Linked DNA regions of Homo sapiens: regions 2, 3 and 4 are each linked to region 1. The links come from fine-mapping of genetic effects on plasma protein levels. A gene starts in region 1. Each other region holds a variant in brackets. All regions are shown on one strand. Distances are from middle to middle.

Region 1 (8,143 bases):
AGCTGGGACTATAGTTGTGGGCTACCTTGCCCAGCTTATTCTGCTTATTTCTACATAAGAAGTATCAATTTACTCAATTGCATTAGGAAGTTGTATCTTTCCAGAGAAATCAAGGAAACATCTGTAAATTCTGAGGATAAGTTCGTAAACAGAAAATGAGGAAATTTTTTTCAAGCAAAATTTGCAAGAGGATCAGAAATGATGGTAGGTTCTAGCAGTTTCACTTCTTGGTTGCTATAGGCCTAGTTTCTTGCCATTTCTACTGTCTGTGGAGATCTATTTCCAAACTGATAGATGAAATACAAATAATTGTGGTGCTGAAGCTTTAATTATCTCTTTCTTTTATTCAAAACATTTACTTGGTATTTACTATGTGCCAAGCTCTAGTATACAAGGGTAAATAAGACACAGCCAGTGCTTTTATGGAATTCTCTGGTCTGTGCAATAAGTGAGGCATAGACATTCTATGGAAGTATCTCAAGAATCCTAGCAAATCATTCCTTTGTGTAACAATAACCAGCCTAAAGGATCATGTTTGTAAAATACTTCATTCTTTGTTAAATACTGCCAGTCTTATCCCATTTGCCTCTTCCCTCTCCCAGTGTCTAGTAGAGCCCGGCTATCCATGAAGACCTAGATAAATGCATACCCAATTGATCTGAAATACCTGAACTAACCACTGTTTTGAAGCCAAGTGTCTAAGACACTAATTGTAATTAGCAATGTCTGAACATAATCTGAATTTGAATGCCTTTGGGCAAGTTATGCAGAGTTTGCCCCAGGTCCTACCATTTTCCATTGTATTAGACCTAGCTGGATTCACTTATTTTTGTTGCCTGACAAACCCAATAGGTATTTGAGTTTTGGGGGGATCTTACAGCCAGTACTCTGCTGTCATAGGTATATGAGTAATTATTTGATCTCTAAACCATCTGTGGCATAGATAGACTACCAGTAGCCTTAAGATGCTATTCTACTCAATTTAATAGAGCATTTAAGTTCAAATTAAATCTCAATTTTTTAAGCAATAAACAGTGAGTTCCCACTTTTTATAAGCCTTTATATTAGAAAGTTGTGAGAATTCATAGAATAATTTATCATTGGAGAATTCATAGAGGGTTTCCTCTAAGAAAGGGCCCTTGCCCTTAAAGACATTGTACCATAATTGGAAGGTTAAAACTCTCACACATGAAAAATAGTAAAACTGATGTAAAACAAGTGATAAAATTGCAAAAGCCCTAGAAGTTGACTAAAGGAAGGGAGACTTCCCAGAGGGGTAGGATTTGAACTGGGCCTTTGAAGCACTGGTAGGATTTGGGGTTGAAGCTATTCTAAAGGGCAGTGCATAGCTGACTCAGAAGCAGTCTCAGAGGTGCAAATGCACAGGCGTGTTGAGGGGACAATGAACAGAGTAACTTGGCTGGACACTTAGGTTGAGAATGTCAAGAGCTTAATGCCAGGCAGAGCTGCCAATCGGGAAATAGTGGCAGTCACTCAAAAACTAAGTGACAATACCAAAGGAGTATCTGAAAAAGATTACATCTAATTTTTTTTTTGAGTATAGAATTGAGGGTGGGTGGAATTGGTAGACAGCCTCTCAATTAGGGGGTCACTGTATTCATCTAGATGTTTGGTAACAAGGCCCTAACTTCAGGTCAGAAAAAGGAAGCAAGGAAGAGGAAGAAGAAACATATAAGACAATTGACAAAACAATTGACTGCTGATCAGCCATGCACAAGAGACAAAGAGAAAAGCAACAAGATTGACTGTGGTTTTAAGACCAGACTGGCAAGACAATATTGGAGCCATGGGGGAGGAAGGGTGGCAGGGAGAAATAGAAGATGGGGAGCTGATTTTAGAGGGAAGACAGTAAGTTTGGTTTTAGTCTGGGCAAGGCATAAGCATTCCAAAAAATTGTAGGTCCAGAGTTTGGGACAAAATTTAGGGCTAAAGATAAGGAAGTTATTTCTAATATGGAAATGTTAGTTAATATTGAGGAATGAATGAACCATCTGATGGGGAGAATATAAAAGAAAGATTATAAAGAAAAGATCTGAACTCAGGAACGTCCCAAAATTTGGAGAGCAGGAACAGAGGACTAGTGAAAAAGGCAGAGACAAGGTGGTCAGAAGAGCATCAGAAGCTCCCCCAGGGCAGTACTTCTGAGGCAATGGAGGAAAATCCCTCAAAGCAGGGGCAGTTCATCATAGGGAGCCGTGAAGACTAAGAACTGGAAGTCAGCCCACAGGTGTGTTAGAGACAGCTGGAAGGCATCAGAGGTGACTGGGGCTAGATAACCTTTCAGATGCTCTTGTCTGTCCTGGAATTCTGTGAGTTGATTTGAAGGTTATCGAGCCCAGCTACAGTGGAGCAGGGTGTGGCATGAGGAGGTGATACTACAGTTGCCCCTTTACAGAGTAACCCACGTATGCAACAATTAAGACATATGACATATTTGGACATTAGCATGTGGAATTAAAATGACACACAACAATCTACTGGTTGCTGTCCAATGTATTGTAAAGCAAATAAACTCTGAAGCATGACCCATAATACTGTCTCTACCATCTCCTTTTTCAAATCAACCTCAAACTTCCCCCTGTCCATTACACGAACATTTCATTTCTGGTGATTCTCCTGACATTTCATCAAATAAATCCATTCAACAATTCGGCAAGCACCCACTAAGCACCTATGTGTATTGCCAGGTACTGCACTAGGAACTTGGGACTCAGAGAACCTTAAAGGTGTGCTTCTTGCCTGTGAGGAGCTCCAGTTCAATGGAAAAGCTCACCAACAGGAGAAATCTGGGGAGAAGACACCCTGAAGCAGCAGACAACAAAGAGCCTGATGATGGGGAGACCTCAAATAATGAAGGCAAATAGATCAGGTTCCAGTGGCAAGAGCAGCAGGACCAGGATTGTTCATCCACTCACAGAATCTTAGGCTTGGAAAGGAGCTTGGAGGACATCCAGGCCAACTCCGTATTTGACCCTGATACAACTGTCTCATTACTGCTCACACTGAATATTTTTACTCTGCATTTTGTCAATTTAGGTCTCTCATTCCCTGCCCCTCAGAGCCATAGTATTTTTGGGTTAAAAGTCCTGATTAGTTGGTAATCTCACTCAGGCTTAGCCTCTCCACCTCCATCCCCTCCACATGAACCCATTGCCTTTGCTCTTCTACTCAGTGCATCCAGGCGGTGAGCAATCAATAGCAATTATTTCAGTTCTGTTTAATTTTTCTACCTTTTCGCTGATCATTTTATATGGAAAGAATAAGCCTTTCCATAGTCCCCAAATCATGCTTTTGTTCAATAATGATTACCTCTATAAGTTATTAAGATAATAGTTTTGGGTTTTTTGTTTTTGTTCCCCCTCCACCAACAGCTGCCTCTTAGGCATAGCTTGTAAACAAAGGCCAGCCTGGAGGGATCACCGTCTGCTAAATGGATAATCACAAACAGATGTCAGTCATAGGAAAACAGATTTTTAAGTTCTTCACCATTAAGCCTCCGAAAACTCTAAGCTGAGAGACAATCTTAAGAATAGTTATATTATTTTACAGTGCACATATTTGGTGCAGAAAATATCTCACCTTATAAAACTGAGCAACAAGAACAATATGCATAGGAACAAGTGAGAGAAATCTGGGGCAGGAGGACATTAGCTTATTTGTGCCCCTCAGCACAATTTCTGAGGCAGAATGTCTCTTGCCTCAAATGGTGTGGAGAGAAGGTAGGCCACCCTTCCCCCACCCTGGCAGCCTCATCATGGTCCACAACATAATAGTATGAGAGTATCTCAACCCACTCGTTACTCACATGAGGACTTGCCACAGCTCCACAAGTAAAGATGCAAAAGTAAACAACAAAAAACAGTTGCTGTTTGTGTTAGATTTCCTTATAGTAGCCACCAAAATGAACAGCCAAAAGGAAAAACAAAACAATCAACATGCAGTAGCTCCAACCCAGGATTCTTTCTAGCTGGGACATATGAGGATGGGTAACAAAAAAGCACTCAAAATTTGGCGTTAAGATATATTCAAGAGAAGAAAAGTTGTTCATTCAGCTTAAGGTTTGCCGTAACATGAGAGTGAGTCAAACCAGAACTAGTTCTGAGGAACTGACGAAAGCCTGGCTTATTTGGAAAGTTTTGGTTTTGCTTTTAGCAGTTTGTCTGTGAATGGGATTGCATTCCTGATTTGGCTCTTGGCTTAGCTATGGTTGGTGTTTAGGAATACTAGTGATTTTTGTATGTTCATGTGGGATCCTGAAACTTTCTGAAGTTTATCAGCTTAAGGAGCTTTTGGGCTGAGACTGTGGGATTTTCTAGATATAAAATTATGTCATCTGCAAACATGGGTAGTTTGACTTCCTCTCTTCCTTCTTGGATGCCTTTTCTTTCTTTCTCTTGCCTGATTGCTCTGGCCAGGACTTCCAATAGTATGGTGAATAGGAGTGGTGAGAGAAGGCAGCCTTGTCTTGTGCCGGTTTTCAAGGGGCATCCTTCCAGCTTTTGCCTATTCAGTGTGATGTTGGCTGTGGGTTCATCATAGATGGCTCTTATTATTTTGAGGTATGTTCCTTCAATACCTGGTTTGTTGAGAGTCTTTTTTTTAACATACCTTGAGAGTTTTTAATACCCTTTTATTCCCTCTCTTTCCCCTATTCTTATATGTGCTCCAGCTTCCCCATTGTCCCTGGAGCACATTTAGGAATAGGGGAAAGGGATGGAATGAAGAATACCAGCATGTCTTAGTGCTGTGCCAGGAAATTGACTCATTTCCTAGGGCTTCTGTAACACATGACCTCAAGTCCTTGGCATTCCCTGACTTATAGTTGTATCACTCCAATCTCTGCCTCCATCTTCAAATGACATTCTTTTCTGTGTGTATCTCTACATTCCTCTCCTCTTATGAGGATACCATCCGTTTGATTAGTGCCCACCCTAATGCAGTATGACCTCATTTAGACTACATCTGCGTAGACCCTACTTCCAAATATAGTCACATTCTGAGGTCCTCAGTAGACATGAATTTGGGGGGAACATTATTCAACTAACCTCACTTCATTTCATAGTGCCTCATTTCATTCTCAGTGCAATGTGTGGTTTAGAGTTAGACCCATTTTACACATGAGAAAACAGGACCAAGATCAAACAATGTTTCCTTAGTTGCATGGCTGAATTTGAACTCGGACCTCAGTGGCCCCACTATACCTTCAGGCTTGTGATTGGTGAGATTAAAACCACATGGCAAGAAAAGGCAAACTTGAATATAGGCCTGAATGATCAATCCTTCTCCTGCTGCCTCCCGCCCTTTTCCTTGTGCTTATAGGGGTAGGACCAGCAGAGATGTGGGGCTGAACACTCAGACAGAGGATGTTTTTAAGAAAACATCTCTCCTTGCCTGTCCTCTAAGCCTTCCCTGCCTCCTTGTTTCTTCTACAAAAGCAAGGATCTCCTTTCCTCCTCCTTGTCCTGCATCCTCTTTTCGTCCCATCGCTTGAACAAGAAGTACTTTAAGAAGTACTACGAAGCTGTGTAGTACCTACAGATGGGAGTGGCTGCCTAGACGGCAAGAGTTGGGACTGTGTCTGTGGGACCCGTGCTTCCTCTGGGGATCTGCTTCTACACCCACGGCTCCAGGCATGTGGTTTCCTTAGGAGTTGCCATTCTCTTACCTGACCCTCTGTTCCTGGCCACAGTGACTGGCTGAGGAATGGACATATGTCCCCTGTGTGGCTTTGAGTTTTAGTATCTATGGAAAACACACCTCACCTACCAGAGTTCCTGTCCTTCTTTAGGAGTGAGGTGCACTCACCACAGTTTCCTTTCCTCTCTCTTGGGTAGCCTTTCTCCAGGCTTGGCCTGCCTCTCCTCTTCACACTTTCCTTTGGGCAGTTCAGCTCTGCTTTGCCACAGTTTAGGGCATCCTGAAGCAAAGGAAGGCCCAGGTATATTCACAGCAAGGCCAAATGAAACTCAAGCTAGTGTCTCAGCACATTAGCCTGCCTCATAAATCTATATGTCTAGAGAAAATAATGGAGGGTTACAAACCAAAGTGTTAATAAAGGCATTTCTGGGTGGAGGTAACTTTTTTTAGTTTTTTGTTAAACTTTTGTTTTACATAGGTAACTTTTTTAGTTTTTTGTTAAACTTTTATTTTACATAGGTAAACTCGTGTCATGGAGGTTTGTCATACAGATTATTTTGTCCCCTAGATACTAAGCCTAGAACCCAGTCATTTTTTTTTTTTTTTTTTTTTTTTTTTTTTTTTTTTTTGCTCATCTCCCTCCTCCCTGGGGCCTCCACCCTCAGCTAGGCTCCAGTTTGTGTTGTTCCCCTCTTTGTGTCCATGTGTTCTTATCACTTAGCTCCCACTTATATGTGAACACATGTGGTATTTGGTTTTCTGTTCCTGCATTAATTTGCTAAGCATAATGACTTCCAGCTCCATCCATGTTCCCGCAAAGGACATGCTCTTTTTTACGGCTCTATAGTATTCCTTGGTGTATATGTACCACATTTTCTTTATCCAGTCTGTCGTTGATGGGCATTTAGGTTGATTCCATGTCTTTGCTATTGTGAATAGTGCTATGATGAACATGTGTGTGCATGTGTCTTTGTGATAGAATGATTTACATTTCTTTGGGTATATACCCAGTAATGGGATTGCTGGATTGAATGGTAGTTCTGTTTTTAGCTCTTTGAGGAATTGCCACACTGCTTTCCATAATGGTTGAACTAATTTACACTCCACCAATAGTGTATAAGCATTCCCTTTTCTCCATAACCTTGTCAGCATGTTGTTTATTAACTTTTTTTTTTTGAGATGGAGTCTCACTCTGTCTTCCAGGCTGGAGTACAGTGGTGAGATCTCAGCTCACTGCAAGCTCCACCTCCTGGGTTCATGCCATTCTCCTGCCTCAGCCTCCTGAGTAGCTGGGACTACAGGCGCCCGCCACCACGCCCGGCTAATTTTTTTGTATTTTTAGCAGAGACGGGGTTTCACCATGTTAGCCTGGATGGTCTGGATCTCCTGACCTTGTGATCTACCTGCCTCAGCCTTCCAAAGTGCTGGGATTACAGGTGTGAGCCACCGCACCCGGCCAACTTATTAACTTTTTAATAATAGCCATTCTGACTGGTGTGAGAGGATCTCTCATTGTGATTTGGATTTGCATTTCTTTAATGATAAGTAATATTGAGCTTTTTTATATGCTTGTTGGCCATGTGTATGTCTTCTTTTGAAAAACGCCTGTTCATGTCCTTTGCCCACTTTTTAATTGGGTTGTTTGTTTTCTTCTTGTAAATTTGTTTAAGTTCCTTATAGATACTGGATATTAGACCTTTGTCAGATGCATAGTTTGCAAAACTTTTCTCCCATTCTGTAGGTTGTGTGTTTACTTTGTTGATAGTTTCTGTTGCTGTGTAGAAGCTCTTTAGTTTAATTAGATCCCATTTGTCAATTTTTGCTTTTGTTGCAATTGCTTTTGGTGTCTTTGTCATGAAATCTTCACTCACTTCTATGTCCAGAATGGTATTGCCTATATTGTCTTCCAGGGTTTTTTATAGTTTTAGGTTTTACATTTAAGTTGTTAATCCATCTTAAGTTGATTTCTGTATCTGGTGTAAGGAAGGAGTCTAGTTTCCATCTTCTGTATATGGCTAGCCAGTTATCCCAGCCCCATTTATTGAGTAGGAAGTCCTTTCTCCATTGCTTGTTTTTGTCAGCTTTGTCAAAGATCAGATAATTGTAGGTGTGCAGCCTTATTTCTGGGTTCTCTATTCTGTTCCATTGGTCTATGTGTCTGTTTTTGTACCAGAACCATGGTGTTTTGGTTACTGTACCCTTGTAGTATAGTTTGAAGTCTGGTAGGATGATGCCTCTGGCTTTGTTCTTTTTGCTTTGATTGCCTTGGCTATTTGGGCTCTTTGTTGGTTCCATATAAATTTTAAAATATTTTTTTCTAGTTCAGTGAAGAATATCACTGGTAGTTTGGTGGAAACAGCATTGAATCTATAAACCGCTTTGGTCGTTTTAATGATATTGATTCTTCCTATCCATGAGCATGGAATGTTTTCCCATTTGTTTGTGTAATCTCTAATTTCTTCTAGCAGTATTTTGTAATTCTCAT
Region 2 (8,000 bases), 24 kb before region 1:
TACAAGCTCCGCCTCCCGGCTTAACGCCATTCTCCTGCCTCAGCCTCCCCAGTAGCTGGGACTACAGGCGCCCGCCACCGCGCCCGGCTAATTTTTGTTGTATTTTTTAGTAGAGACAGGGTTTCACCATGTTAGCCAGGATGGTCTCGATCTCCTGACCTCATGATCCACCCGCCTTGGCCTCCCAAAGTGCTGGGATTACGGTCGTGAGCCACCGCGCCCGGCCTAATGTGTCCATTTCTAAAATATATATATATAGTACAATATAGTTTCCACAAGAAAAAAAATATATGCATCTAAAACAATATTACATATTTTAAATAAGCTCTTACAAACAAAAGAATATGTATGAAACATGCTGGAATAATTTCCTGTGTTAAAAAAGGGGAATGAGACTGGAGAATGTGGAAAAAAGAGAATAAATAAATAAGACAAATAACAGAGGCTTTTTGGGTAAGGAACCTAATCTATTCAATTCCTTCTAAGTAAAAATAAATAAATTATTAAATGAAAAAATTCTTCTCTGTCTAAATTGTTTCTTTTCATTCATTGAAACTCACTTCCAATTTCACCTTCCCTACAGAATTTTATCTTAATGTAACATATTTTTGTTTGACAGATTTTGTATTGATTATCGTTATATGTCTTTACAACAACAAAATATTTATAGCTATTGAAATGAAAACTTTTCTCTTGTGACTATGAAGCTTTAAATGTTCAGGGTGTTCTGCATTAAGATCTAATTTTTTTTTTTAACAGTAAGTTTTAGGGTACATGTGCACAACGTGCAGGTTTGTTACATATGTATACATGTGCCATATTGGTGTGCTGCACCCATTAACTTGTCATTAAACATTAGGTATATCTCCTAATGCTATCCCTCTCCCCTCCCCCGACCACACAACAGTCCCCAGTGTGTGATGTTCCCCTCCCTGTGTCCATGTGTTCTCATTGTTCAATTCCCACCTATGAGTGAGAACATGCGGTGTTTGGTTTTTTGTCCTTGGGATAGTTTGCTGAGAATGATGGTTTCCAGCTTCATCCATGTCCCTACGAAGGACATGAACTCATCATTTTTTATGGCTGCATAGTATTCTATGGTGTATACGTGCCACATTTTCTTAATCCAGTCTATCGTTGTTGGACATTTATTTCTATTATTATTAACACATATTTGATCAAAATGTAAAATGTTATGAATATTGATAATTATTAAACATGAAAGATGAAAATTTATTGGGAATGTGTCCCTTAATAAGATGGATATGGCTCTCTTTTCCAAATTATTCATGAATCCGAAGAACCATATGACATGGTTGGAATGATTTTATATAATAGAATTCAGCCTCAATTCTATTTCTATTTTTCATTTTTTTGTAGCTTATAAAGGCTAAGGAATCTTGTTCGTATGAGTAAATCAATGGGAATGGAAGCAGTTTCGTTACAGCAATGCCATTTCATTCTTTGACCTGATTTACATGGCAAAAATTACTCATTTTTGATTATCAGTTATTAACTTTATAAGGGCCTCCTTCAATTTTGTTGAAAGCAGAAAATTAGATACCACATTATTTGCAAAAGGGTTTTTAGTCATAACAGTTCCATCAGGTGTCAATGTTCCCAATCATTCTTTTATTTAACACTATAGAGGGTTTTACACCCTGGGACAATGGACTATATTCATGATGAGTGAGTGGTAGGCTTAAAAGAGGAAGTGTTTTAGGGGAACCCCAAGAGCCTTGCCTGGCATGCACATTGTCAGGCTCGTCAATTTTGGGAACGAGTATTTGGGGAAGATGAGGATCTAGGAACTCACTTCCTAAAACTGCCTGTGCCCATACATCCCTTGAAAAGTCTTTGTAATCCCCAAATATCCCAGTTTGATGACCAACACTATAAGGAACAAATCTCTCCACAACTGAGAAATCCCTGATCTAGGTAAGGAGTAGGCAGGGTGCCTCCCCAGGAATGAGAGACAGTTCTCAGTTTGAGAGAATGGGCAGAAGGCCTGGCCCATTAATACAGCATTCAGATAGAGATCAATAAAAACAGAGGTGGTGATTTAGGGTTGCAGATATTCGAGTACATCAAGGCATCCTGAGAATGTACAGCCTTACATTAAGGGAACTCAGACAAACTTCAGTGTTCTAGAGTTCCTCCCAGCTGCTGCCTGGATGTAGGAAATGCAATAAAGATAGAAAACAGTTACATCTAGGCTAATGGCTTTCCTGGTGACTCATTGATGGTTGAGGTGTGAGGAGGTCACTGCCCCTGTAACAACTGAGGGTCTTTTAACCAAGTCTCTGGACACTTATTATATGCCGGGTACCATGCTCAGTTCTTTATGTTCATTATCTCTCTCAATGTTGACAACAATCCTGTGTGTTTGGTACTACTATTGTTCGTCTTCTACAAATAAGCAAAATGTGAGGTTATGAAAGGCAAAATAACCTGCCCAAGGATAAGGGCGAACACAATATTCATCCTCATGTCCAGTCCCTCTAGTTTGTCCTTCTTTGTACCAGATCATAAAGTCACACACTTTCTGCCAAGGTTAATGGTTTTTTGGGGCCAAAACCCACAAACCCTCTAGAAGACAGTACAGACCATCTGAGGTCCAATGCGTGGGAGGGGAAGAGGCCAGAGAAATATTGGCATCATTTATCTCAGAGCATTCAAGCCTGGAGACCATAAGCCAATGAACAAGCAAAATCTATTTTTTATAGTTGTTATATGTCTTTCCTCAAATCACCTTTTCTAGAACAAACAAGAGTGTGAAGATTCTCTTTATATTTAGATTTTCAATTGTGCTGGAGTGGAGAGATCCCTGAATCCAGAGGAATAGGGACAGCTATAGACTTCATGGGACTCTCTTGGGCTACCCACTTCCCTTCTCTGGATCTCAGCTACTTCATCTGCAATAAATAGGGCTTGCATTTGAGCAGTGTTTTCCAAACTTGTAACTTTTTATGATCCAAAGTAAGAAAAAAAAAATTTATACCATGACCCAACACGCACACACACACACACGTCCCTCAGAAATTAGTTTTACAGTACTCAGTCCTACTCTGTGATGTCGTCTGATCTACTCTGTCTATTCTCTTCTATACATTATTTTTTAAAGGGCGGGAAACGTGCATCTGGTTGCTACTCACTAAATTGATATTTTAATCCATGAATGGGCGGCAAACCATGGTTTTAAAAACTCTGGATTCAGGGTATAAACTATTGAAAAAGAGTATCTTAATAATCAAGTCAGGGATGTTCCATGGGAGAATTGTGAATTAGGCAAAGCTTATTTTTCATACCCTCCCACATTTCAGGGACTAATTTTCCTGGCTTCCTCCAGTCCCATTTTATTCCTATAGGTCCTACCCCCTTTCACTTGTACTTCGGCTGCTTTGTACTCAGATGTCAAAAATTATTTCCGAGCAGATGCTTTCATTTTCTCTGAAATAGCTGTCTCCTTAAAAGCAGCCTGCTTGTTTTTGCTTGAGCTACCTTTAATGGGTTTCTGTGACTTGCAGATCCTCTGTTGGAGAGATGCTTCCATGGATTCTAGTCCTTGACACCACTCACCTTTGACTTTCAGAGTCAGGTACTTGTAGTCCCAGGCGACCCCATAGATGATTATGCATTGGTACTGTCCTTCGTCCCTCACTTGGACTTGAGGTATGTGGAACGAGGCCTTCCCTAGGGGCAGCT[G/C]CTCCTCCAGCAAAGTGGCTCTTTCACGGTGTGGGGATGTATCATTTTCCACCTTTTGCAAACTGGCTGTTATTGCTCCAAGGTTCACATGACTTCCAGTGTCAAAGTTGCATTCCAGGGTCACATTGCTGCCATGCTCTATTATGTACAGTTCCTTAGGGACTGTCACTGTGAATAAAGCTGAAAAGAAAACAAGATATTTTGTCATTGTCTGCCTTTACTTTACATTCCAGTTCTTACGAAGTGTAACCTGAGACCCATCTCACCCCCATTTTCCAAAAGGCACCTGTCTTATCTGGACATTCCCGTGGCGAATCCTTTTTCTCCTTTGCCCCATCCATCTGGGCAAGAGTGGGATTCTTGACCCGCTGATCTGAGGTGGCTCTCTCCTCCAAACATTCCCTCCTGTGCAGCTGACTGCCCTTTGCTCCTCTCTGGGCACCCCAGCAAGAGCTTCTGGTGGACAGCACTGCTTGCTCTCAGAGGCCTCTCCCACCTCCAGTCCCTGACCCCCCAAGCCCTGCAGTCATTCCAGGTCATCTGTCATATAAGAACAAAATGCTTCCTTTCGACTTCCCTACCATCAAGGTCTGAGCTCATGTTACTTAAATACCTTCACATCCTATTCTCCAGGTTTGTTTCCCTCAATCCATATTGATTAATCCATATATTTTTGTGCCAGGTATCACTTCCTCTCACCAGTGATGGTAATAATAACTATTACTTGTTGAATTCTTACAATTGTCAGACACTCTGCTAACACATCGTCTCACTGAGCTTCTTCCCAGAAGCCAGCAAGGTAGGTAATAATATTCTATCCTTTTTTTCAGAAAACAAAAATGAGGCACAAAAAGGTTAAGTAACTTGCCCAAGATTGCACAGCCAGAATCAGATCAGGTATTTCTAACCACCACATCATACAAGCCCACTGTAGATGCTTTCTATTTTCTGACAATAAAGGGAAAGGAAAAATGGAACTGATACTTAATGTATATCTAGTATGTTCTATGCCAGGCACTGTGCTAGGTACTTTTAACTATATTGTTTAATACTGAAAACATGACCGTGAAACCTGTTTTGTCATTATGGTTATATAGTTGAGGAAACTGGCTCCAAGCAGTTCACTTCAGGACATATGTTAGTAAAGTTAAAATCCAGAGCCAGTCAGATGTTTGACTACAAAATCCGTAGTTTCCACTCAGAGTTTACCAAAATGTGAGGGACACGCCACTAGAAGTATGTAAGATGATTTTAGATGAGGCAGAATCAAAGCCTAAAGGGAGTTAAATTATTCAGAGAGGAATTTATTCCCTTTTCAATTCTATTTTAATCCTTCAATTGCATATAATTTCAACTAGACTTCCACACCTCTAACACTGGCTATTTTTCCTTTTAATCAAACAGGAAGCTTCCGGGTAGATAACAGTATCTGGGTAGGATTTGATAACACTGCTTTATTTTCACTGCATTTATTTTTCTTCCTATTCTCTATTTACCAGTGCAAATGATACTTGTTTTTCATCTACCACAGGGGTATGTGGCTTTATTTTTTAAAAGTTGAATTGATCTAAATAGTTCTATAAAAAAAGCATAAGGAGTGGCCAAACTAGTAAAGGTAGTGTTACATCAATAAAGTGTGAAAAATGACAAAATTAGGCTGCTTCCATCATTAATGAATGGGTATTCATTATGATGGAGGTATAGGAAAATCTTGAAGTAGTTTCTGAATAATCACAGAAGATTAGATCAAATTATGTTCAGTAGAGCTTGCTTCATTCATTTATTCATTCATTCAATCAAATCATTCATTCAACAAATATTTGGGAGCTGCTTCTAAGCATTAGCTATTCCAGAAGTTGTTTCAGTATAAAATGTGATACGGAAGAGCATAGGATATAGTGACAGGTGAGCCTGGGTTCAAATGCTGACTCAGGATTAGGAGTCCTTTGACTGTGAGTCCGTCCTTTAATCTTTATGAGCTTCAGCCTCTTTATCTATAAAATGAGGTTGAACTCTACCTCTCAGTATTGTGGTGGAGGCTGGACGAGGTGTTACATGTGAAGTGCCTAGATCTGGCAGGCAGTAGGCACTCAGCAAATGTTCGTTCCTTTCTTTCGTACCATGTTTTAATTCTTGGGAAAGTGGTAATTCATATGTGGAATGCATGGCCAATCTTTATCCTCCAGGATATTTTACTAACCAGGACAGTCCATTCTCTGATCAGATTTCACAGTATAAGTAACTTTTGGGTTTTCTGCTGCTTGAATGATTCCCACTGCAGATGTCCTCTGATTCAAGTTTTTCTTCCCACTATCCTGCAAATCTTTGAAGGCAAAGACCAGGCTGAGTTTGCTTTGATATATCCAGTACCTAGCACATAGCAAGTTCTAGTTAAGAGCTTGGCAAATAAATGACAGAAAGAGAGAGAGGGAGAAAGAAAGGATGACCCTGGTTATATATTCACCTCTGCTTTCCTTTCATCAAACTGCAACTTGCCTGTGATCACACAAATTGGCATTCTTAATTGCCACACAGCACACTTGATAGTGATATGCACAAACTTGAGATTTATTTCAAATGACCGACATTTTTGGCTTGCCTCTATCCCTGTTTTAACCATGGCTAGAACATTAATGTGCCTTTCTACAGAGAGGAGTTCACGTGTGCCCAGCATTCTTTTGTGCAGGAGGGGCACAGGGGCAGGGCTATAAGGTGAGTGTACATGTGTAAAACAATGCTAATCATATCTGCACTTGCTGTGCCAGGTTGCAAAGACCCTGGAATAAGGCATGTAAAAAGAGATTTCCTGTATGATTCTTTTATTTTAATCCACTGCACACTTGGAATAGCTCTCACCTCAGAATCTCCATAATGGGACCCTCTTAAGGGCAGATCCCTTTATGATGGAAGCCGTCCTTAAATACTTGAGTTATTAAGTCCCTTATAACTTAATGCAGAGCCACCTGATACCAAATCCAATCTGTCCTTGAAGAATAATATTCAACTATTCATCAAATATGTAGTAATCATATGCCAAGTTCAAGAATTACCTACTACTTTTACTCTTCTATAATACTTCTCTTGTTTAATTACATTTGATAAACAGGAAACAGGGAAGAAAATGGGGCTTACAAGGAAGGTTAGTTGCTGAGTCTGCATAACAACAAGAATTAAATAGATGACTTTGGGTAGAGACTGTTGAATCTATTTAGCAAATTTATTTACTGCACTATGCTTTCTTGTCATAAGAAAGGGAACGCCTATAACTTCCTCTGGAACTCCCCTTAGCTTACAGCAGAACTCCCCTCTTTACTGCCTGGGCCTTTGATAAAAGTCCATTTTCTTCCTATTTTTCCTGTCTGCCTTGTAAGAATGCGTGCCAGGAGTGATAGGCATAAAATATGCTACTTGTCAGACAGGTGACATTTTTCAGCTAATATTTACAAGAGAAAAGAGCAATTAGCAAACATGAATCATATGTCTGAATAGCTCAGAATACCTAGAAGATTAATTGTTACTTGGTCTAATTTTGCCCCAAGTAAAGTTTCTAAGACATGCAAACTTTGAGCTTGATTACTCCATACAAAATAAGAGGTTTAGGCAATGCAATAGATTTTTGAAATCCTGAAACATTCTTGCTTATTGTAAGTTACAGAGGCAATCAAGACACTGATGCAAACAATTCTATGAAGAGGTTTTTTCTCAAGCCCAGCTGCAAATTAGATTCACTAAGCAGAGGGCCTCAATCTTGGCTAACATTGGAATCACCTGGGAGGCTTTTAAAACACACTAATGCCCAGGCACTACTTTGGATCTGTTAAAATTACATTATTTTGGAGATGAGGTCAGCATCATTAAAGATTTTCTTTTCCTGGGAGCTTCTAAAGTGCAGACAGTATTGCGAACCATTAGTTACACAAAGTAACATTTGCACGTGCAAGCGTCTTTTACCACCTTGCCTTCAAAGTGTTGTCCTCAACTTCACCTGGAAGCTAGGTAGAAATGTAGAATTTCAAGCCTTCCCCAGACCTAGGGAATCAGGATCTGCATTTTAAGAAGGTCACGGTGATTTGCATGCACATTAATGTTTGAGAAGTAGAGTTATAACACTGGTCTGCATTTGGACTGTCACTGGGAAGTAGCGTAATAGTTGATATTTCTTAAACACAGTAAGTCAGACACTGGGCTAGCCCATCATTTCATCTGATCCTCCCAGCAACTCTGCGAGGTAGATGTTGCTATCCACATTTTACAGATGGGGAAACTGAGGCTCAAAGAAGTGATGCAACTTGCCC
Region 3 (8,143 bases), 43 kb after region 1:
GTAATCCCAGCCCTTTGGGAGGCTGAGATGGGTGGATCACCTGAGGTCAGGAGTTCGAGATCAGCCTGGCCAACATTGTGAAACCCTGTCTCTACTAAAAGTACAAAAATTAGCCAGGAGTGGTGGCAGGTGCCTGTAATCCCAGCTACTCGAGGGGCTGAGGCAGGAGAATCAGTTGAACCTGGAGGCGGAGGTTGCAGTGAGCTGAGATAGTGCCATTGCACTCCAGCCTGGGTGACAAGAGCAAAACTCTGTCTCAAAAACAAACAAACAAAAGCATCTAGAGTCAAACACATATTCTTAGAAATAGCCATTATAATCCTTTAAGAGTATCTGATTCAAATAAGTGATAGTCTTTTAAAATGGAATTTCATGACTAAAATCTCACCGGATGACACATTAAAAGGTCTATACTTCCTTGAATGATAAGTTTTGTCATGCTTGTTTAAAACCACAGATCTATGGTCCTAACCATTGCTAGCCCTTAATCCTCAACTTGGCTTAGTTCTAGTTTCCTCGCTTTATTTTCAAAACTTGAAGACTGCAATACATCTATCTTCCTACACACTGGATTGCATACCCGTTTACAGATCTGGGAAAAGTACTTTCTTAGAGGTAAGTCCCTTTGTTTCCCTATAGTTCTATTGGGTTCCACTCCTTCTCTCCCACCCTCTCTCCCTTAGATCTTCAATGTAGATGACAGGATTTTGACTCTTCTTGGTATGGTCCTAAAGGAAGCTGCCGAATGAGAGAGAATGAAAATTTTCAATACATTCTTTTTTAAAATAAAATCTTTTGATACTTTTTTCATTGTGCAGGATTCAAAAGCATGCTGTATAAAAACATGCTGTATAAGCAATGAAAAAAGAACTAGGAACAAGGCTGCAAATATTCCAAGTAACTTTCTCCACTGGGATGTTAAACTGAACATTTTATTAAACACAAAATAAACAAGAAAATGGACATGCTGGTGTACCAAGTAACAAAATAAATAAGAATATTTTATTAAATTAATGCAGGTACAAAAAGTGACAATCAAATGCAGAATTAGGTATCATCTCTGCCTATGCCATTTACGATGAAACATGAGACAAAAGGGATAAAGTGCCTTACAAATCCAACACCACAAGGAGGAGTTAGGACTTAGGAATAGACTGAGTAGACTATGTGCCTTGCTCAGCCACAATTCTTGCCTGTAATTCACACAAAGAACACTGTCACACCAATTACTGTACAAATGCACATGTACAAACAGATAACACAAGGAGCTCTGTTGGAGACACTGTTTCTTCAGCCTTGACATGTGGCAAAGCCAAGGTACTCCTTGTCATTGACACCAGAATATGGCCAAGAGGGAAAGGAAACTCTGGGATCTCCCAGGGCATCTGAATCTCGAAACCTCCAGGAAGCCTCTTAGGAGGGCTGTGTAGTGATGACAGCTGGTGGCATTCAAGGGTTCAAGCACAACGAATGAGGCTTTTCTGGCACAGGGTAGCTAGCAGTCAAGGTACACTGCCGGAATTTCCAGAAAGAAAATGTGATTTTGCAAGTACAGCATCAAAGTGAAGTTTATACTTGACAGAAAGCAGAAAACAAAAGTTCCAGACATGATTCTGTCATACAGAGTTAATAATAAGATTGCTTTTTAGGACTAGATTGACTCAGTGCACCCTGGAGAGCCCATGGGTCTCCTTTTGAGCAAACATAAACAAATCCAAACTCTGTCCTAGAGCAAATACTTAACAAATGGTGGTTGTCTAAATGTATATGTAGGACATATTTAACATATACTGGATCATATGAAAGATAATGAAAAGCTATGGGAAAGATAACTTAGAAACAAAGAAGGCATGGATCCTCAGCCCTGGGAACTTCAAATTCATTCCATCTGCTATATAAGAAACACTAAAATAAATAAAAATAGCAAAGTACACAGCAGACATACAATGTGTTACTATTTAGGAAAAAAATTTTAAAAATACGTGCTTTTAACATACATTTCCAAATGTAGACTATCTTTAGAAGAACATATGAATGAAAGGCAGTAGCAGTTGCTTCTGGAAAGGAAACTTGAATGGCTTGGAGGATGAAGTGGAGATTTTCCAACCATCTCCCATGGGATCTTTTGAATTTTGAATCATGGAAAGGTATGAATTTAAAATTTAGTGGCATTTAAATAGAAAAGACAGAACTGTTAAACAATACCAGACACTATATAAACAAGCATTAGATTATATGGCAAAGGCAAATCAGGAATAAATATAATGCTAGAAAAGGAATTCCAGTGTTATTTTTCAGGGTTATTTTAAGTACCGACCTCTCTTTGTAAATGAAAATTACTCTGATTATTAAGATGTTTAAGTATATCCAACCGTCCCAGACCACATTGGCCTATTTCCTCCTCTTGGCAACACTGCTCGGGTTTTCCCCTCGCATCATCCTTATGCTATGACACTGGACTAAATTGTAATAATACATTTTCTTGTTAATCTCCTCATTATACTATGAGCTCCTTGAGGACAGGTACTTTGTCTTGCTCACATCTGTAGATTCAATGCCTGGCACAGCGATTGATATTGCAAGGGCACTTAATAAATGGTTTTTGAATAAAAGAATTGCTTAAAGTAAAATATAGCTGTAAATTGTATTATAAAAGGACAGTGGGTGGCAGTCTGAGGTCTGCTATTTACTGGTTTGGGCAAGTTACTTAATCTGTTTGCTTCCTCAGCTGTACGATGGGTAAAATAATAGTGGTTATCACAACAGGGTGGTTACAGCGATGAAATGAGATTATGTGTGTAGGCTACCACATAATTGTAAAGCTGATATTTAAATGGAACAGATACTGCACAGACACTTGAGGTCTGAGAATAAGATTAGGTCAACCAGAGTATTAATGGGTTAAATAAAGGTGACATCCTATGCAACCAACGGTTTGATCTTTATGCTTCCAATGTATACTTGTAGTTATAGAGGAGACCAAGCACCTTACAAATACTCCATGTTTTACTAGATGTGAGCAAATCATTAAGCAGCAAGTTTAGTTTGGCGACAAAATTGTAACATCTACTACAATATATCTTCAAAAGAAATCATTCACAACCACACTCACATGACAAGAAGACCTCACAGACTCAAAATAAATAGGAAAAACTCATACATAAATACTGTCCCGTTCCAACACTGAGACTCTCAGTCATGCAGAAAACAAATTGAGGCATTGAGTGGAGGCAAAGGGCACTTCTGCAGGAACTGACCCTCAAATTAGGGATTCTCAACCCGTCTTCCTAGGATGAGCAATGGATGATTTGCTTGGAGGCTCCTTGTTCAGAAGTATCCTTTCTCCCTGTCACAGGCGTCGATGAGCCCCTCAGGCATTTGAAAGTATCAAGGTCTCCCTCCAGGCTCCCTGTTTGACTCCATCTTTCTTCATTCTCCTCCTCTGCTTTCGCCAGGTTCCATTTTCAGTGCTTGGGCCTTTTAAGTCCCACATTGCCTGCATCCCACGGGCCCATTCCTTCCTCTTGTCACGCTCAGCCCCGATGAACCCCTAAACCACAGGTTGAGAATCCCTGCTTGAAGATCAGAAGTTCCAATGCTGGATTACGTCTCCTCCAAATGTGTATCTGGAGAGTGATAATAGTATATTAATTTCATGGGAAGTGGTCTGGGGAAAAAGTAACAAGAAATCTAATAAAAAACATAACTCATAGTTGCTGATATGATAAATGATAAATTTGAAATGAGAGAAAGCAGCAGGTTATATTTGTACCCAATTATCCTTACATGATATCCTGGAAAACCCCTCAGTCCTGAGCAAATTGGGATGGCTTGTCCCCCAGCATGACCCAAACAACATTTGCTACTTAGCTTTACAACACAGATGATGCTATGGGCCACAGAATGAAACTTGCCTGAGCTTGTCCAGGTTAATTAGACTGCTTTAAACTTGGGCTCATTGTTAAGTTTGGTTTCTAACTACATTAAAAAAATTAGAAACCTTAATATAACTTTCTTCTTAGTTCAATAACCTGGATGAGGTTTTTCTGCCCTGCTTATAAATGTAAACATTTGTAGCAAAATGGATTGAAGCAGATGGGTTAAGAGTAAGGGTCTGTGGTTAGGCTAATGGCCCCCAAGCTTGATTTTTGTGATCAGCTGTGTGTTCTTGGGCACTTTACATTATCTTCTTGACCCTCTGTTTTCTCTACTGTAAAATGAGGATAAATTCTAGTATTTCTCTCTCTCTCTCTCTCTCTCTCTTTGGTAATGGCAAGGGGTGGGGGATTAAATGAGATACCGTGCATGGTGCAATTAACATAGTATTACAATACTGACACACAATATTTTAGAATCAATTAATTATCCATCCACCTAAGTCATCCTTGTCCCCTGCTGCAAGGAGCTGCTAGGGTGCAGGGCAACAGAAGATTAGCAAATGAAGCTGACTCCTTCCCCTTCCCTGCTCCTAAACCTCCTCAGACGGTGGAGGAGTTCTTGTGTTAGCTGTGAGGCAAAGGGGAACCAGCATTCTTTAAAAGGAGAGGAGATTATGACTGATGGATTTCTCTTTGTTATTGCTTTAGCTTTTTGTTTCCTTTGACTTTTACTTCCCAATTCCTTCTGATATTCTTACCACTTTGCTTCTTTGAGTTTGTATCTTGGATGCCACATTTTTTCACATCCATCATTCTCCCTTGAGAAAAAGAAATCATTTTTATTTCCATATAGCACAGCTCTACATCCCATACAGTGACCCAAGTTTAAATTTCAAGTTCTGTGAAACATTTGTAATCCCTAGGAAGTCTGGTGGACATCCTTATTCCACAGGTCCCAACTTATGAGGTTAATTAATTCAATAGTGTAGGGCACATGCTTTTGATCCTAGATGTTCTTGAGGAGTATACACTTTTATTTTTCATCTTTTCCCAGAGATGAACCAAATTCTGAGGTATTTTAATATCTATTGATTTCTATCCATTTCTACTGCCAACTAATCTTTTTTTCCAGAGAAATATTCAAAATGCATGCTGGCAACAATTATTTCTTTGTGCAAATCAACTCCATCTCAGGATCTTACTGTCATTGAAACTTGATCCTTATATTCTGGCTATCTCAGTCCTGTTAAGAATATAATTTTTGGAAACAGCTTATCTCTACTCTCTCAGTTAACACTACTTTCCCCCATGTAAGGGGTTATGGGGAATTTTTCAACGACTATTGGAATCCCCTTCCATATTCTACTTCCCTATTTAACATCAGACAACTCTATACCATCACTGGATCTCTTGGTATACTTCTCTAAGTATTGGAGGAATTATTTACTCTGACTCATCTTAAATGGGAGGAAATTATTTGAATATACTCATTTTCCTGGATTTTAATTGTTCCCACAGGTAAATGGAGAAATGAACACATGCAAATTATGTAACATCCTCTACCAAAAATTTTGCAAAATACTCTATGGTAAACATACTACAGTTCTACAGAGGAACTATTTTTATTACTTAGGGTACCCAGAAACCAGCTGGTTGCAACTAATGCAAGACTAAAATGCAACTGAAAATGACGGGCATTTTAGCTCTTTCTCTTCTGTAAGTCTGTGGTTATTTTCATGATAGAAAAAAACTGTATGACACTGCATCTTCTACCTCCATCCATACCCATTCTCCTGCCCCTCACCCCTTACGCTTCATCTTCACCCAGTGATCCCACTCAGCTTCAATATAATTGCTGTTGAACAGTGGAATGCCTTTGCACCACCTTGCAGAGGTTAAGTCGGGTTTCCTTGCAGCCATGATCCAATTCTCACCCCTTCCTCACCCCCAGTGGAGACCACTGCAATTAAGGAAATACTACCTTTTCTTAAACGGAAGATGAATGTCAGTGCTACACCAAGGCATAATAAGATGGCTCCCAGAATTACCAAGTGAGTCCTTTCATTTGGAGGATGTGCCAGAGGTAGTTCTGAAAAACAAAACAAAACGAAAACAAACTGACTAAAGATAAAATTTTGATGGGAAGGGGTCAGGAGAATGGTCATCCTTGAAGTTTAGTTTAGCTTTAGGATAATTTTCTTAAATGCCAAAGTTTGAGTGGCTGGAATGGCGAGATACCTGTGTTAAAATGGGAACAGCATGGAGAAGTGTGAGAAGC[C/T]CAGGCTTTGAAAAGGTGGTGCTGGGGCTAAATTCTGCTGCCCTTAACCAGTTTTGAGGTCTTGGGCAAGATACTTAACCAGTGTACAAAATACAAATGCTAATACATTTCTTGTGAGGCTAATATTTATAATGTGCTTGCACAGTACCACATGGAGTGGCTGCTCACTATTAAATGGCGGCCTTGATTATTTCACTTCCTCTTGCTTTTTTTTTTTTTTTTTGAGGCAGAGTCTTTCTCTGTTGCCCAGGGTGGAGTGCAGTGGCGCAATCTGGGCTCACTGCAACTTCCGCCTCCCAGGTTCAAGCAATTCTTGTGCCTCAGTCTCCCGAGTAGCTGGGATTACAGGTGCACACCACCACACCCAGCTAATTTTTATATTTTTAGTAAAGGCAGAGTTTCACCATGTTGGCCAGGCTGGTCACAAACTCCTGACCTCAAGTGATCTGCCCACCTTGGCCTCCCAAAGTGCTGAGATTACAGGCATGAGCCTCCGCTCCTGGCCCCTCTTGCATTCTTTAATATAGAAGCTAGTAGCCTACAGTACATGGCAGAGATGGCCCACAGTAGAACATGGAAGGCCAACCAGCACTGCTAAGGAGCTCCCACCTCCTCCTATCTGTCATCATGATTGGAGGCCAATGCTTGTTGTCTTATCTTTCTCTGCAGTTTGAACATCTCTGGACAACAAGCCATTAGTATCTCTTACTAGGCTCCTTGTCTGGGGTACCATGCAGGAGGAAAGGGGGTCCCATGGTACACAGATGTTCAGAGGCTGCTAACTCCCACCTCTCACCCTTAGTCAGCTCCTGCCTGGCTCAGCTCTCCACTGAGACCCATGATCCATCTTTGACTACCCAGGTGAAACTTTAAAGACACAACAACAGCCAGCTTTTTCCGTAACTTACAGTTTACAATGCCTGTTCACGTATGTTTTATTTCAGTTTCAGAACAACTTTATGAGTTAGGCATGCCAGGTATTTAAAAAAAAATCCCCAATTTACAGATGAGGAAACAGACTCAGTGCAGTTAGGTGAGTTACTGTAGGCCACCCAACAAGTAAGTTGTCATAAAACAGCTTGTAAATGGCAGGAACCCACTAATCTAGCTTTTACTGAAAGCCAGTTCAATACCTGAGGACTCGTACCCCAGTAAGAGCATCCCCATCATTTTCTAAAGTTTTTTCCCCCTCTTTCTGTTCACAACACCGTCCTGGATTATCTTTTCCTATTGATTGACTTTTCTATCTAATTTTTCAGTTGTTTTTGCTGAAGTACGTGGCATTTTCCTATCAACATGTATTGGGGGAGGGGGCAGTGAGCAGCTCTTCTCAGAATATCTTTGTGTTTATATTAAATATCATGCTCACTCGCCTCACTTTCTTTCACATTCTGAGCCTCTCATCAGACTCTGTCTCCCACCCTACCTACTTCTGTAGAGTAGTGAGATAAAAAAAAATAGTTGAATTTGTGCAGGCAATGGTCTCAAATCATTTTCATACACTGTTGCTAATCTGACCCTTACAATAAGCTTGCTCAGTAGATTATAATCCTACAGGGAAAGTGAAGCACACAGAAGTCTAGTAATTTGCCCAGGGACACACAGCCTCATGTTCTATGCACTAAGCAGACTGCTAGAGTTGAAATATTGTAGACTACCTTGGGAGAGGCACCGGGGAGAAAGGGTCCCTCATGTTTGGCATAAGATAGAAAAATATGTTCCATTTATTTCCTGCCACCCTGGAAAGAGGGAAGCAGCTCTGATGTGCCAGGATTTGGATTCCTGAAACAAGGCCTGAATTGAGTATTCCTCTCAGGTATTCCCCAGGTTTCCCGGCTATGAAAGCATTTCCCACATGGTGTTGGATTGCCTGTTTTTTGTTTGTTTCTTAGTTTTTTATCTGTTTCCTGAAGAGTGTGAACTGAGTCTTATTATTCTATGTGTATCCAATGAGTACTACAATGCATGGAACAAAAGGTATATTCCA
Region 4 (8,143 bases), 12 kb before region 1:
TGAGGCCAGCCTGTGTAACATAGCAAGACCCCATCACTAAAAATGTTTAAAAAATTAGCCAGACCGGGTGGTACATGCCTGTAGTCCTAGCTACTCAGGAGATTGAGGCAGGAGACTCACTTGAGCCTGGGAGTTGGAGGCTGCAGTGAGCTGTGGTTGGGCCACTGCACTCCAGCATGGATGACAGAGGAAGACCCTGTCTCTAAAAAGTTTTGTTTTAATTTAAAAAAGGTAAAAATAAAGGGCATATCAGATAGTGCTATGAAGAGTATTTGCAAAGGAGGTTTTATTGGGCTAGGGTATGTGAAGCATTTCTGGGGAGCTGACAAAGTTCTTCTTAACCTGGGTGGTGGTTACAAAAGTAATCACCTTATAGTAATGTTAAGCTTTATAGTTGTTTCATGTGGTTTTCTCTGTGATATATTTTACAACAGAAAGCTTTAAATAAATTTTCAAAATATATTTAATTAAGTAAAATGAACATCTGTGAACCTACCACCTACCCTAAGAACTAGCACATTACTAATGATGTATGTCTGCCTGCACCAGAGGTAACTGGCGTCCTGAATATCGGGCTTATCAGTCTCTTCCTTACTTTTTTTTTTTTTTTTTGAGACGGAGTCTCACTCTGTCGCCCAGGCTAGAGTGCAGTGGCGTGATCTTGGCTCACCGCCACCTCCGACTCCCTGGTTCAAGCGATTCTCCTGCCTCAGACTCCCGAGTAGCTGGGATTACAGGCTTGTGCCACCATGCCCAGCTAATTTTTGTATTTTTTGTAGAGACGAGGTTTCACCATGCGGGCCAGGCTGGTCTCGGTCTCCTGACCTCGTGATCTGCCCACCTTGGCCTCCCAAAGTGCTGGGATTACAGGCGTGAGCCACCATGCCCGGCCTCTTCTTTACTTTTTAAGCTTTATCTTCTATATATAAGGTATGCTTAAGCAATATATTTATTTATGAAAAGGACATTGTGCTATGTGTTATCTTCTGGCCTTAATTTTTATTTATTTATTTTTTACTCAATATTATGCTCTAAGATTCATAGATGTAGTTACATGTTTTTGTAATTTATCTACATGCTATATAATAATAGATGTAGTCATATGTTTTTGTAATTAATTTATTCACATGCTATCTATTATATATATAATATATATTCTGCAAATATACCATGATTTCTCTATCCATTCTCCAGTTGAAGTTCTTCTAGACCTACTCCTGGAATCAAATTCTCCAGGGCATATGGATTGTTTTTATTTATTTGTAATGACTGAGAATACCGCCATAAGTGTTTTTTTTTCTTTTTTTTTTTTTTTAAATGGAATCTCACTCTGTCACCCAGGCTGGAATACAGTGACATGATCTTAGCTCACTGCAACCTCTGCCTCCTGGGTTCAAGCAATTTTTCTGCCTCAGCTGAGTAGCTTGGATTATAGGTGGCCACCACCATGCCCGGCTAATATTTTTCTATTTTTAGTACAGAGGGGTTTCACCATGTTGGCCAGGCTGGTCTCGAACTCCTGACCTGAGGTGATCCACCCGCCTCGGCCTCCCATAGGGCTGGGATTATAGGCGTGAGCCACTGCGCCTGGCCAAGTGTTATTTTTAAAATTTAAAAATAGAAAAGAAATGTGCACTGATAGGGTACTAAGCATCACATTGATTTAATTCAGGTATCTTCTTTTCTTTTCAATGAAGCATGCAGGTCTGGGGCTGTACAAGGAGCAAGGAAGAAAATGTAATCTTCTGTCTGTCTGGACACCCTGATAGCTGTAGCTCTGTCTCAGGCACTGAGTGTTGCAGTCTGATTACTTTCATATTTTTATATGAGAAATTTCTTGTATTTTTAAAATTATATTTTATTATACAAATAATACCTAATACATGCTTCTTGTAAAAAACAAAAACCTGAATATACATAATAGATAAGACTATCCTTTTTACCCCCATCCCAGACCTCCTCCCCTCCCCAGAAGTAAACACTAATTATTTCTCAGATCCTTTAGTTTTTTTGTTGTTTTCTTTTGCAGGTACCCTCCTCTGAAATCAAAACTCTTTAATTAAAGAGACATGAAATGACAAGATTTTAAAAAAATCCCATGAGGAGAAGGCATTCTAATTTAGGTAGGTATTTAATATTTGTCTGAACTGATGTTATCTGCATAGTGGAAAGCAGAAAAGAATTCCAAATTCGTGAAGAAAATGAGAAAGCGCTACATTTTTACTTTCCTTTCAGTTAATTCAGCAACATAATTCATTACACATATTTTTTGATTCTGTGAATATCCAGAATAAACATTCAATACGTATCCATATTCAGACTTCAGTGCAAAAACCTATTCCAAAGTTGGAAGATTTATGGGTTGTCTGCCATTTTTGATTACCATCATCATGGTAGCACAGTAAAGTAGAAAGGACATTAGCTTTGTTGAAATCTTGCCGGTGTCACCTAATAACTATGTAATCTTGGGGAAATTAAGTACCTTTTCTGAGTTCTAGTTCCCTCACCTGCAAAATGATCATTGTGAAGATTAAATGAACTATACCATATGTAAATTGCCTAGCACAGTATCTGGCATTTAGTGAATCTTCAATAAATGTAAATGCTCTTCCTTTTGCCCCATTAGTATACCTAACTGGGAGCTAGTGCCTATCTTCATTGTCTTGTGCTGATTATCTTAGAAGAAAAGATCCTTCCTCTGTAGAAAGAGCCAATGAGGGATAAAAAATGTTGCCCCTTGTCACCCTAGCTCACTCCTTTCCTAAGAGAAAAGGCAAAAAACAAAGACAGAAAACCCAGGATCTCAGTGTTTTTAAGCTACAAACCCACAGAGGTTACACATTCCCCAAGTTTTCTCCTGAAGCCCCCAGTCCTGCCACAGGATGGGGAACAGTGTCTTTTGGCCCTCATTTCCCTTATCACTCTATGGAAACTTGAAGCTGTTTTGTAGCAAGGAAGTTATTGCCCCTTTTGCTTGTCTCTAAAATGCCAGCCAGGCAGGGTTCCTTGCAAAGAAAACATGAAAAGTTCCTTTAGCTGGCCCTGCAGGCAGGAGCAGAGTAGAAGTAAGCAGAATATCTCAGGGTCTTCCTTTGAGGAGGGCCCCAAGTGCATGTCTCTAGTGCCAGACCAGGCTGGGCAGCTCAAGTGAGTGAGAGGAATGTGACTGGGTGAAGAGTGATCTGGAACCAGCTAGTAGGGAGGAGAAAGCTCTTCGAAAGGTTATCAAGTGCCAAGGGAGCCATTATTTCTCAATCATGAGCAGAAAGATGATTTCCCATGGGGCTGGGGCTATTGTCTTGAGGACTTAATCCTCTGTCCACACCTCTATGTTACTCTCTTAGCTCCTGGTGTTCATCCAAAATAGTGCACTCATGGTTCTAACTACACCCTCGAATGGTCTGAACTACCTTCCCCAGGAGAACAACCAACTGTGAAACTGCTTTTCTTTCTGCTCACCCTCATCCTCCAATAGAAGTCCTTTCTTCAAGTCCAAAGGGATAGCCTTAAGGTTCATTGTTCATTTGGGTTTTAGGAAGACTCAGTAAACCACATTAAGGTATGAATGACCAACGGCTGCTATTGTTGCTTTTCAAAAAAGAAACTCACAGAAACAACTAATAATATGCAGAATGTCTTCAAGACATTATCTTTAGAGTAACGGTGTTCCCTGGCCATTGTCTCCTTACTCTCCCTGCCAGAAAGGAAGGGGACAGCTGCTTGGCATCTCACCTTTAAGGGAACTCAACCCCTGCCCTCTTGTATCAGTTTAGATTTACATGGTCTGAGTGATCCTGTCTTCTTGTCATTACCCTCACTGGATAGTGGGAATAGATGGAGCAATATTCTCAGTCACCGTTTCTGTCAGATAGGGACATTGGCATGTATAAGCCACCATGGGGACTCTTTTTTTTTTTGTGGTGCTTGGAATAGCCCAGAAATCATACGTCCTCTCAAAGAAAGCCCTCAGCCTGAGGGCCACATTCTCATTTTTGGCTTTGGCTAGGAACCACCACCTGCTCTTCTTTCTTAAGCCTCTCCCTTTGTCCTTTCTTACCTGCTATCTGGTGAAGCTGCAATTC[CA/A]GGCTCAACATTAGCAGGAGGAAGATCATGTTCTGTATTTGATCTGAAATAGACAATTGAAAGTCTCAGGGCCTTGTGAAACTTTGCTGGGTCTTTGGTTCTTTGTTCACTTTTGAAAACAGGGGAATAACAAATCATTTGGGGAAGGTGACAGACCATGGTAGAGTGGAGCTGGGAGGAGAAGTTATAGGTTGATTTCCTGGAGAAGAGAAGATATAAATTAAGAGTAAACAAGACACTCTTTATAAATCCAAATGAGAAGTTCTTCTTCCTTTTCTAATGGCCGTTTCTGAATATGAACCAGTCCTTGTGAACCACACATATTGGCAGTTACCTGCACGTCTCATGAAGCTTTCCATAGCTTTTTTCAATAGCTGGCCCTTGAACCCCAACTTTGTTTGTCAAATGAATAATGGACACCATCTTCTTTACCTGGACTGGATGTCTGGGAGTCTGACACTTGAAAATAAGACTCCATAGAACAGAGCTACATTCTCAATAAATACTTGCTAGTTGACTGAGCAAAGTAGTCAAGTGCTTTTGAGTGCTGGAATTGAGTTTGCCCCTCTCTTGAACTACCTCTTACTAAGAGGTTTAGACAGGGAGAGTAGGGAACTGGCTCTGATGAGGGTGGGGGCTGCGAATGCCCCACCTTGGTCCTGCTGTACCTCCCATGCTTTCTCCTTTACTCTGAAGCTTTCTTTATCCATGGACTTCTTATGGTTGAGGAAAGGGACAGAGCACACAGCTAATCTGATAATGGTCTGAAACTGAGGAGGCTTTCCAACTTTTATCAGCCATGGAATCATTTCTTCAGGGGAAATCTGTTGGAGCCATACATCTAAATCAGGCAACAGCAGAGCTGCTCTGAGTGTGATGAAAAGCAGTGGAGGGTTTGGGTCAGGAGAATGATAGAACCTCATTTACATCATTAAGAGACAACTAAGCTTTGGTGTAGGCAATAGACTATTGCTGAGAGGGAGAGGTTGCTGGCAAGATTACAAGCAGTGAGATCGGTTAGGAATGTGTTTGCAGAAATGCTGATAGCTTAGAGTAGAGGGGCTAGTAGGGGTGAGAAGTGGTCTGTTGGCGAGTTTATATATTTTTTCTTTGTTTTAAAATTTTATTTTAAAAATTTCAACAGCTTTATTAAAGTATAATTGATATACGAAAGAGGGTTATATGTGTCTAAGTGTGTATATATATTTAAAACACAAACTTTTTTTAAGTGCACGACTCTGTGGTTTTTAGTATGTTCACGGAGTTGTGCAACAAACACTATTATCCAATTTTAGAACATTTTCATTACCCTGAAAAGGAACCCCTTACCCATTAGCAGAAACTTCCTATTTCCCCTTCCCTTTCCCTATGGCCCTTGGCAACCACTAATCTAGTTTCTGTCTCTATCAATTGCTTATTCTGGATATTTCATAAAAATGGAATCAAGCAATATGTGGACTTTTGTGGCTGGCTTTTTTCACCGAACATAATGTTGTCAAGGTTCATCTGTATTGTAGCATATATCAGCACTGCGTTCCTTTTTGTGACTAAATAATATTCCATTGTATGATATACCACATTTTGCTTACCCATTCATCAGTTGATGGTCATTTGGATTGTTTCTGCTTGTTGGCTATTATGAATAAAGTTCCTATGAAAACTCATATACAAGTCTTTGTCTATGTATACTTTTAATTATCTTGGGTACATATGTAGGAGTAGAATTGCTGAATTAAATGGTAACTCTATATTTAACTTTTTGAGGAATTGCCAAACTATTTATCAAATATATGATTTGGAAATATTTTTTCCCATTCTGCACATTGTCTTTTCAGTTTCTTTATAGAATCCTGTGAAGGATAAATGTTTTAATTTAATTTTGATTTTATTTAATTTTGAAACACAAATTGATTTTAAGTAAAAAAATCCAATTTATCTACTTTTTTCTTTTATTGTTTGTGCTTTAGGTGTAATACCTAAGAAACCATTGCCTAGTCAAGGTCACAAAGATTTACATCTGTATTTTCTGCTAAGATAAATATAAATGGAGCAATTGTACAGGGACAACTGGATGTCCACATGCAAAAGAACAAATTTGGAGCCTTACCTCATACCATATACAAAAATTAAACAAAATGGATCAAGAACCTAAATATAAGAACTTTAGTTCCAAATTTGTTCTACTGATTGTGGGCATTCAGTTGTGCCTGTACAATTTGTTGAGGAAATTATTCTTTCCCTATTGAACTGTCTTGGCACCCTTGCAAAACATCAATTGATCATATATATAAGGATGTATTTCTGGACTCTCGATTCTGTTTTATTGAACTATATGTCTATCCTATGTCAGTACCACACAGCGTTGATTACTGTAGCTTTGTAGTAAGTTTTGAAACTGGAAAGTGTGAGTCCTCCAACTTTGTTAGTCTTTTTCAAGATTTTTTTTTAGGGGGCTATTCGGGCTTCCTTACATTTTCAAATGAATTTTAGGGTCAACTTGCTCATTTCTGCAGACAAAGGAAGCTGGAATTTTGGTAGGGATTGCATTGAATCCATAGATCAATTTGGGGAATACAGCCAGCTGAATAATATTTAGTCTTCCAATTCATGAATACAGCATGTCTTTCCTTTGTTTAGGCCTTCTATAGTTTGAAAAAAGACCTGAAGGGAACTGCTGACAGGCTAGATATATAGTTTGAGAAAAAGAGGGAAATCTGGGAAAATTCCTAAGTTTGGGGCTTGAGTCACTAAGGCAATGGAGATGCTGTTTATTAAAATGGAGAAGGCTGGGGGAGAAGCAAATTAAGGAAGGGGAAAAAGAGTTACGTTTGTTGTAGATTTGGTTTGAAATGCCTATTAGATAGCCAAGTGGAGGTGTTTAGTAGGCAGTTGGGGTAGAGATGTAAATTTAGGAGTCATCAATGCAGAAGTGTTAAAGATTTAAAGTCATGGATATCTGCATTACATCACCTACAGAGAGATAGGAAAGAGAGTGCCCAAGGACTGAGACATGGGGTATTCCAACATTTATAGATCTTTGTGAAGAGCGGTCACCAGCAGAGAAGATTGAAAGGAAGGGTACAAAGGCAAATGGCAGTGTGTATTATCCATGCATTTTATTTTCTGTATTCTGATGCTTTGACACCTGGGGCCTTGCTGACCCTGAAGGGACTGCCGCTCCCAGGGTTAGCCAATTCTAACCTCTAAGAGAGAGTAAACCACTTGCCCATGAGCACACCTTTCAAATGCAAACCAACCCATTTCAGAGCCCATACCCACAACTGCCTCATTTATTGGGGGCTTTCACATTCCCAACACTATGCAACTGCCTTAATCACCCCAGGGCCAAGTACCAGAAGACTAGGGACAGCCCCTATGCCCCAGAGCCTGCTGAAATTATTTATATCAGCTAATCCTAAATCCACTCACCCTGCTTCACCCATTTCTTCCTGTTGAAACCACAATAAAGATCTTGCGCACCCCCCACCCACCTCCTGGCTGACCCTGGTGCTTCCCCATGTGGCCCTTTGTGGCATGGTGTGCCCCCCTTCTCTTGGGATCTGTGAGTACAACATACTTTTTTCAACGACAGTCATTTCCTGATATATTGGCCTCACCATACCTAAATAATAATAAAACCTATATTTTAAAACACAGTGCTACAAAGGAGTGATCAGTAGAGCCAAATACTCTTGAGAGTTGCATTTAGCAGTATGGAGGTCATGGATGATCCTGACAAGCACAGTATCAGTGAGTTTTGTACAGATGAAAGCTTGAATAGGTTCAAAAGAGAATGGGTAAAGATGTGGCAACAAATATAGGCAACTCTCTCAAGAAGAGTGCTATAAAAAGGAGAAGAGAAATGAGTCAGTAGCTAGAGGGAAATGTAAGGTCCTCAGTGAGCTGTATTCTTGTTTTTATTTTAGAAAGGGAGATCTTACAGCAGGTAACAACTGGGAACAGAATTAAGTGCTTTCCACAGGGAAATGCTCATGGCATACCTTAGCTTGACCAGAAGATAGCCTTCCTTATTCAGATGCATATATATCCAAGAAAGGTA

What was found. PIP is the chance, under the fine-mapping model, that this variant and not a neighbour inherited with it causes the effect. The UK Biobank Pharma Proteomics Project read protein levels with antibody pairs (Olink). The fine-mapping took linkage between variants from a reference panel, not from the people measured, so its PIPs are less certain.
Region 2: its variant is fine-mapped to the plasma level of the PDCD1LG2 protein (UK Biobank, PIP above 0.99). The variant lies in the coding sequence of PDCD1LG2. If it changes the protein, the assay may bind it differently, which can mimic a change of level.
Region 3: its variant is fine-mapped to the plasma level of the PDCD1LG2 protein (UK Biobank, PIP above 0.99).
Region 4: its variant is fine-mapped to the plasma level of the PDCD1LG2 protein (UK Biobank, PIP above 0.99). The variant lies in the coding sequence of PDCD1LG2. If it changes the protein, the assay may bind it differently, which can mimic a change of level.

The regions. Positions count from the first base shown.
Region 1 is chr9:5,506,487-5,514,629 of GRCh38, reverse strand. PDCD1LG2 (programmed cell death 1 ligand 2) reads right to left here and starts at 4,099. Exons shown (of 7, transcript NM_025239.4): 1 at 3,827-4,099. The region is part of intron 2 of INCR1 (interferon stimulated noncoding RNA 1); the gene reads left to right. RefSeq lists enhancers at 4,001-4,050, 4,211-4,270, 4,331-4,410, 4,352-5,551.
Region 2 is chr9:5,530,630-5,538,629 of GRCh38, reverse strand. PDCD1LG2 (programmed cell death 1 ligand 2) reads right to left here. Exons shown (of 7, transcript NM_025239.4): 3 at 3,580-3,885. The region is part of intron 1 of INCR1 (interferon stimulated noncoding RNA 1); the gene reads left to right. Among named protein-coding and RNA genes, the nearest start is that of PDCD1LG2, 24 kb to the right of the region's middle. RefSeq lists an enhancer at 7,012-7,061. The variant G/C (reference allele first, on the strand shown) is at 3,706.
Region 3 is chr9:5,463,323-5,471,465 of GRCh38, reverse strand. CD274 (CD274 molecule) reads right to left here. Exons shown (of 7, transcript NM_014143.4): 5 at 5,860-5,967; 6 at 4,637-4,696; 7 at 912-3,626. The coding sequence ends at 3,604. All of the region lies in intron 2 of INCR1 (interferon stimulated noncoding RNA 1), which reads left to right. Among named protein-coding and RNA genes, the nearest start is that of CD274, 17 kb to the right of the region's middle. The variant C/T (reference allele first, on the strand shown) is at 6,157.
Region 4 is chr9:5,518,516-5,526,658 of GRCh38, reverse strand. It overlaps PDCD1LG2 (programmed cell death 1 ligand 2), which reads right to left. Exons shown (of 7, transcript NM_025239.4): 2 at 4,058-4,126. The coding sequence starts at 4,112. It overlaps INCR1 (interferon stimulated noncoding RNA 1), which reads left to right. Exons shown (of 3, transcript XR_007061406.1): 2 at 2,030-2,123. Among named protein-coding and RNA genes, the nearest start is that of PDCD1LG2, 12 kb to the right of the region's middle. The variant CA/A (reference allele first, on the strand shown) is at 4,083.